2 linked regions of the Homo sapiens genome follow. The protein of the gene in region 1 purifies or fractionates together with the protein of each later gene. This does not show direct contact. Each region holds a gene or a part of one and is shown in the gene's direction. Other genes may lie near its edges. The genes, in order: SPINK1 and ST14.

Region 1 (2,617 bases):
TAGGAACTTAGCCTAGTTAGAAAAATCAGGGAGGGTGCTCCGAAGTAACTGAGGGGTTATTTTGAGCCAAAAAAAAAAAATGAGTGTTAGTAAAACAAAACTGGTGGGGAGATGTAGTAGAATAAAGTACTTAAGAGCTAAAGCTCAGGAACTCTGACTAGGTTTGAATTCTGAATTTAGGAATTCCTTAGCTGGGTGGCCTTGGCTAATTTTATTGCTTTGTGCCTCATTATCTTCACCTGAAGAAGAATATAATACTTAGTTCACAGGATAGTTAGGAGGTTTAAACAGAATAATATATAAAAAGCACTAGAACAATGTCTAGGACAATGACAATCATTTGATGATTATAAACTCTTACTGGAGTAGAATGCAAAGACTTCCAACACCCGACAATGCCTAGTGCCTTTAAGTGCCTAATAGAAGACCAGTGTGTGTGGACTACAGTGTACAAGGAAGAACGTGCCCCAAGATGTGGCCAACCTGAGAGATGCCAGCACCCGCAGTAATTGCAAACTTGAACATTATCTCACCCATCCATGTAAATCTCACAACAACACTATGAGATAGGTGGGAAATGGTAATATCATCACTGTTTTGCAGATGAACTGACTGAGTTTCAGAAGGGCCATAGGACTTACTAATGTCACACAGCTTAGAAATAGCAGAGGCATGACTTAAAACAAGGTTTTCTGTCTCCAGATAGTAGGTTATTTCTCTTACAACACACAGTATCATTCTCCCAATCACAGTTATTCCCCAGAGAAATAAAACCATTTCAGAGATTTTGCTATGAACTCAAGAATGGAGAATAATGGGAAATGATTCTGTTTAATTCCATTTTTAGGCCAAATGTTACAATGAACTTAATGGATGCACCAAGATATATGACCCTGTCTGTGGGACTGATGGAAATACTTATCCCAATGAATGCGTGTTATGTTTTGAAAATCGGTGAGTACAAACTTGAGTTTCTTTTAAACTATATATTTTAAGTTAGTTATCTTCAAGTGTACTGATAATATGAATCTCACCCCGAGAAAAGCAAACTATTTACTTTTTCCAAAAACAGTTATCTCTTTCTTATTCTCCCTTTTATATATTTAGCATTAAATATTATTTTTTAGAAGTCACTTGTATGATAAAAGCCTATATTTTTTACAGCAAAATAGTCGATAGCTTGGATTTTTATAAAGTACACACAAAATACCTTTAATTAAAAAAATTATTAGTGGTTGCAATGATTGTGTTTTTTAAAGCCCTCAGTTATGCAAATATAAATTGTATAGATTATATAACCAAAAATATATTTTTACTTATGGATATGAAAGCCAGTTTCAGTAAAGCTTCATTTCCTCAGTGACCATAAGTAGGTGATGTGATACAGAGAAATAGATTCAACACAGATTTCCTATCTCACTCAGCAACTGAAACCTTAGCATGTCTCAAGCATCATGCTAATATTCCCTGTCTTACTTGTGCTTATGACTAAGAAAACATCATGAGCATGTATAGGATGGCTTCTTATAACTTGGGGCAAATGCCAGAAGATGAGGTGTAAATAAAGTGCAACAGGAGTGAAGCAGAGATACATATTTTTTATTAAAAGGGGCCAAGAAAGGATCCATGAAAAGAATAGAATGCCAGCCGGGTGCAGTGGCTCACTCCTGTAATCCCAGCACTTTGGGAGGCCGATGCAGGTGGATCACCTGAGACCAGCCTGGCCAACATGGTGAAACCCCATGGTGGCGGGCGCCTATAATACCAGCTACTCAGGAGGCTGAGGCAGAAGAATCGCTTCAATCTGGGAGGCAGAGGTTGCAGTGAGCTGAGATTGTGCCACTGCACTCCAACCTGGGTGACAAGAGTGAGACTCCATCTTAAAAAAAAGGAAAAAAAAAGAATAGAATGCCATTTAAATAGAGTTCTGAATTTTGGCAATATCAAAAGAGCATGCCAGGTTAAATAAAGGTGTGGAATGAACAAAGCAAATAAAAGGGATTCCACGAGTGACTTTAGTTTTTCTGAGATTGACTTGATATTAAAGACTTTGACTCAGGCTCAAATGACTGTGTAAATTTCCATTATATTCTACTGCATAAATTCCCTTTTCTGTAATGCAAACCTTCTTCTTGGGCTGTTTTAAACCATTTTGGAAAATTCTCAGAGTTTAGCAAGTATTGTGGAAATAGGACCTCTGGATGAGAGGTCTAATATCCTGAAGTTTTAGACCCAAAACATTAGGTATTCTACTTTGTAATAAATCTGTTTCCATAATTAAGACTTGTAAAAAGAATTTGAAGCCACCTGTTAGTTTTCTCATGACCCATGTTCTTGACATTAAGCTCAAACATCATATTTCCATCCAATGGGAGGAGAAAGCAAGAGAACAACAGCTTTGAGACTTGGGAAATTTCCAAGTGCCGCTCAACATTTACAGTGAAACATTAGAAAAATATTAGTAGAGGGCTGGAACACCCTATCTGCTTAGCCTCTGAAACCTCCGAGTTTCTGCTTATTCTTTCTATTTGTTCAAAACTATGTAAATATGGGAGGCACATTTGTATGCTAGAAAACATGACCTCTCTTCCTATATTTCTCAGATAAGAAAATTTAG
Region 2 (3,822 bases), on another chromosome or scaffold:
CAGCCCTCTTCCCACACTAGCTGCGGGTGCAGGAACCCCTTTGTCACAGCTTGGTGGGCCTGGGTAACCCCTGCCCTGGGCCACAGCACCTGCCCTGCTCCTGTGTGTTTGTGGCTGGGAGGTTGGCCCGAGGGAGGGAGCCGGGAGCCAGCGGAGGGAGGTGGGTGGGTGCTGGGGGCCTCAGGCCTGCCTGTGCCCGCAGCATGCCCGGGGCAGTTCACGTGCCGCACGGGGCGGTGTATCCGGAAGGAGCTGCGCTGTGATGGCTGGGCCGACTGCACCGACCACAGCGATGAGCTCAACTGCAGTGAGTCAGGCTGGGAGCCCCGGTCTCCCCACCCTCCTTCCCCACCCTGCCCGCGTCCCATGGCCCTGCTGGCTGACTGCCGAGGCAGAAAGGCCGGAGGTGGTGGGAGTTTTTGCTCTCGGCCCTGTGTAGAGACCTCTGGCCCCACTCCCCACCCTGCCATATGGAGATCTTGGCCTGTGGGGCAGGTGGTGGGGTATCTCGGAAGTGCTGAGGTCAGCTTGGTAGCTGGTGGAGCAGGGCCCCTTGGGCCTCTCTGTAGATCAGAAAGCGGTCCCCAGGTAGCTCTGATCGCCTGGGCATCCTGGGGAAGCAGTGAGTGATGAGGGCCTCACGGCCGACCTCCCCTTACCCCACTCCAGGTTGCGACGCCGGCCACCAGTTCACGTGCAAGAACAAGTTCTGCAAGCCCCTCTTCTGGGTCTGCGACAGTGTGAACGACTGCGGAGACAACAGCGACGAGCAGGGGTGCAGTGAGTGCTGGGGAGGGGCTGCCTGGGCGGGCAGGTGGGCGGGGCGACTGACGGTGGCTCCTGGTGGCTGAGTCCTGGTGCCTCTCCAGGTTGTCCGGCCCAGACCTTCAGGTGTTCCAATGGGAAGTGCCTCTCGAAAAGCCAGCAGTGCAATGGGAAGGACGACTGTGGGGACGGGTCCGACGAGGCCTCCTGCCCCAAGGGTGAGGCCCGCCCCACCCATCTTCCTGTTGGGGGCCTCGCCCCTGGAGGAGGCTGCCCTGAGCACACGCACATGCAGGACGCCCCGAGTTTAATGAACACAAACCACCTGTGTGTTAAGTGTGATGAGAAAGGGCTCTGGTTGGGGGAGAATTTTCCAGAAGGTGGAGAACCTGTAGCAGGGCAGGGAGGCCAGTGGGCGTGGGTGGGGCAGGCCTGGGTGAGGGGGTAATGTGCAGGGGCCATGAGGCGCCATTGGTGGTTTCTGGCTTCTGGTCGGATGCTGCAGAGGAATTGAGCCCCTCCCTTGTCCTCCTCCTTGAACAGTGAACGTCGTCACTTGTACCAAACACACCTACCGCTGCCTCAATGGGCTCTGCTTGAGCAAGGGCAACCCTGAGTGTGACGGGAAGGAGGACTGTAGCGACGGCTCAGATGAGAAGGACTGCGGTGAGCAGGGCATCCGAGTACGGTTGTGCAGGTTGTTCACTGTGTGAAGTGCCCACCAGAGGGTGCACCTGGAGGTGCAATCCCGCCAGCACCTCACTTAGCAGCTCTGTGCTTGGGTGAGAGGGTGTGTCTCCTGGAGGAAAGGATAGCCTTGCCAGTTGGCATGAAGGCACCACCCCACGGGCTGGCTCTGGTCTTGGAGAAAGGCCCGTACGGCCAGCATCTCAGCGCCTCTGTAGCATGGCGGGGTCGTGGCTGCAGTGCGTTGCTGGCCCCTGCTGTGTAGACACAGCTGTGGAGCAGTAGCCTGGAGAAGAGCGGCCCAGCTCACCCAAGCCCAAGGCAGGGTGTCACCCCTGCCTGCCCATACTTTAATCTGCAGCCTCTGTGTTTCAGAAGCGTTGGCTGGCCACAGGTTAGATTTGAGCACAGCTCCAGCGTTCTGTGACCTCACATCAGCGGTTCATTCGTCCCTCTCAGAGCTGTGGCCTTCAGCATTCAAAGGCGCTTCTCCCTGCTCCATGCTGCCCCCTCCCCTGTGATGTCCCAAATGATGTCAAGTCAGGCAGATGACACCCAAATCAAAGTGAAGCTGACCAGCCAGCCTCCGGAGGCCCTCGCTGCATTTGTGAGGGAGGGGGAGGTGGGAAGATGAGGGTTTGAATTTGGGAGCGGGGAGAAGGAGGGGCATGGTGGAAGGGAGTCTGTGAAGCTCAAAGATAGTTTTGGGGGTCCCTCACGCCCTGGCCACGCCAGCAGTGCTGTGCACGCCAAAAGCTGGCTTCCCCACACAGGGTCTCCTGGCACACACTGCATGTCCCCTTGTGGTTTGATGTCCCCACCTTGACTTGCTGTCCTCTGGTTCTCTGCTCCCTCTGCAGACTGTGGGCTGCGGTCATTCACGAGACAGGCTCGTGTTGTTGGGGGCACGGATGCGGATGAGGGCGAGTGGCCCTGGCAGGTAAGCCTGCATGCTCTGGGCCAGGGCCACATCTGCGGTGCTTCCCTCATCTCTCCCAACTGGCTGGTCTCTGCCGCACACTGCTACATCGATGACAGAGGATTCAGGTGGGTCTCTGGGTGGGCAGCAGGGAGCCTCCTTGCTGGCCCTTTGCATCTGGGAGTAATGCCAGGATAGGTTGGCACCGAGGCAGGGCACTGGAGGGGTGGCCACATGTGTTAGTCCATTCTTGAGTTGCTCTAAAGAAATACCTGAGACTGGGTCATTTATAAAGAAAAGAGTTTATTTGGCCCATGGTTCTGCAGGCTGTATAGGAAGCGTGGTGCCAGCCTCTGCTTCTGGTGAGGGCCTCAGGGAGCTTCCATCCATGGCAGAAGGTGAAGGGGGAGAAGGCACATCACATGGCGAGAACAGGAGCAAGAGAGAGCAGGAGGAGGTCCTAGACTCTTAAGCAGCCAGCCTCGTGTGAACTCAGAACTCACCCATCACCATGGGAAGGGCACCAAAACATTCATGAGGGAACCGTGACCAAAACACCTCCTACCACGCCCCACCTCCAACACTGGGGATCCCATTTCAACATGAGATTTGGAGGGGACAAGCATCCAAACCAAATGAGCAGATATCCCAGGACGGGGCTCAATAACAGTAATAATAAAAACTCACTGTATTCGGTGCCCACTTGCAGCCAAGTGCTGTCTCTGTGCCTCTCCTAAAACCCCCTAGCAAGTTAGGCAGCTTGATTGTATCCTCACTACAGAAAGTAAGGTTCAGAGAAGTAGGGACGTTTGCTTGGGGTGGCACAGCTGTTAAGTGGCAGAGCCAGACTTGAGCACAGGTGTGGTCTCCGGTGAGTCTGCACTGTGCAACTCCTCGGATTGGCCAACGTGAGCTTTGGATTCATGCTCCAGCTCTGGCTTGCCGGTGGCCCTGGGCAGGTTATTCAAACTTCCTAGGCCTTGGGTTCTTCACCAATGATAGTGACAGTATCAGCTCCCACCCTTAGAGTTGTGAGAATTAAATACAATGCTGTACTTGAGACACTTTGCGCTGTGCCTGGCACATAGTAGGTGCTCAGCATGTCATGGCCTCAGACACACAGACAGATGAGAGGCCTGGAAGGGTCACATGGGCATCCCAGGAACAGGGGCACAATGCCGGGCTGCGCTATTTGTGTCTTAGCTCCTGGCCTCTCTGGGCGTCTGGCTGTTGGCTGAAGGAAGGAGTGTTAGGGCCTGGCTTGCCCTGAAGAGGCAGGCACAGGGGCATGGGCCTTCCAGGAGAATCCAACCTCGGAAGAAGGGGATGCGCTTTCTGCTGGCTGCACGCTTTTCCATGGTAGGCAGCTCCAGGAGCAGGTGACCCAAGCCCTCAGCTGCCCTTTGCAGGGAGGAGAGATGGGCCCACAGCAGGAGGGAGGCCTGAGGCAC

Evidence for each region.
Region 2: the proteins of SPINK1 (region 1) and ST14 purify together in Homo sapiens (affinity purification with mass spectrometry; one large-scale study listed by BioGRID and IntAct). This does not show direct contact.

The regions. Positions count from the first base shown.
Region 1 is NC_000005.10:147,826,359-147,828,975, reverse strand, and holds part of SPINK1 (serine protease inhibitor Kazal-type 1 precursor), read left to right. Parts: intron 1-847; coding exon 848-954; intron 955-2,617. UniProt on the Homo sapiens protein: Serine protease inhibitor which exhibits anti-trypsin activity. In the pancreas, protects against trypsin-catalyzed premature activation of zymogens.
Region 2 is NC_000011.10:130,197,639-130,201,460, forward strand, and holds part of ST14 (suppressor of tumorigenicity 14 protein), read left to right. Parts: intron 1-202; coding exon 203-307; intron 308-669; coding exon 670-780; intron 781-869; coding exon 870-983; intron 984-1,308; coding exon 1,309-1,431; intron 1,432-2,312; coding exon 2,313-2,499; intron 2,500-3,822. UniProt on the Homo sapiens protein: Exhibits trypsin-like activity as defined by cleavage of synthetic substrates with Arg or Lys as the P1 site. Involved in the terminal differentiation of keratinocytes through prostasin (PRSS8) activation and filaggrin (FLG) processing.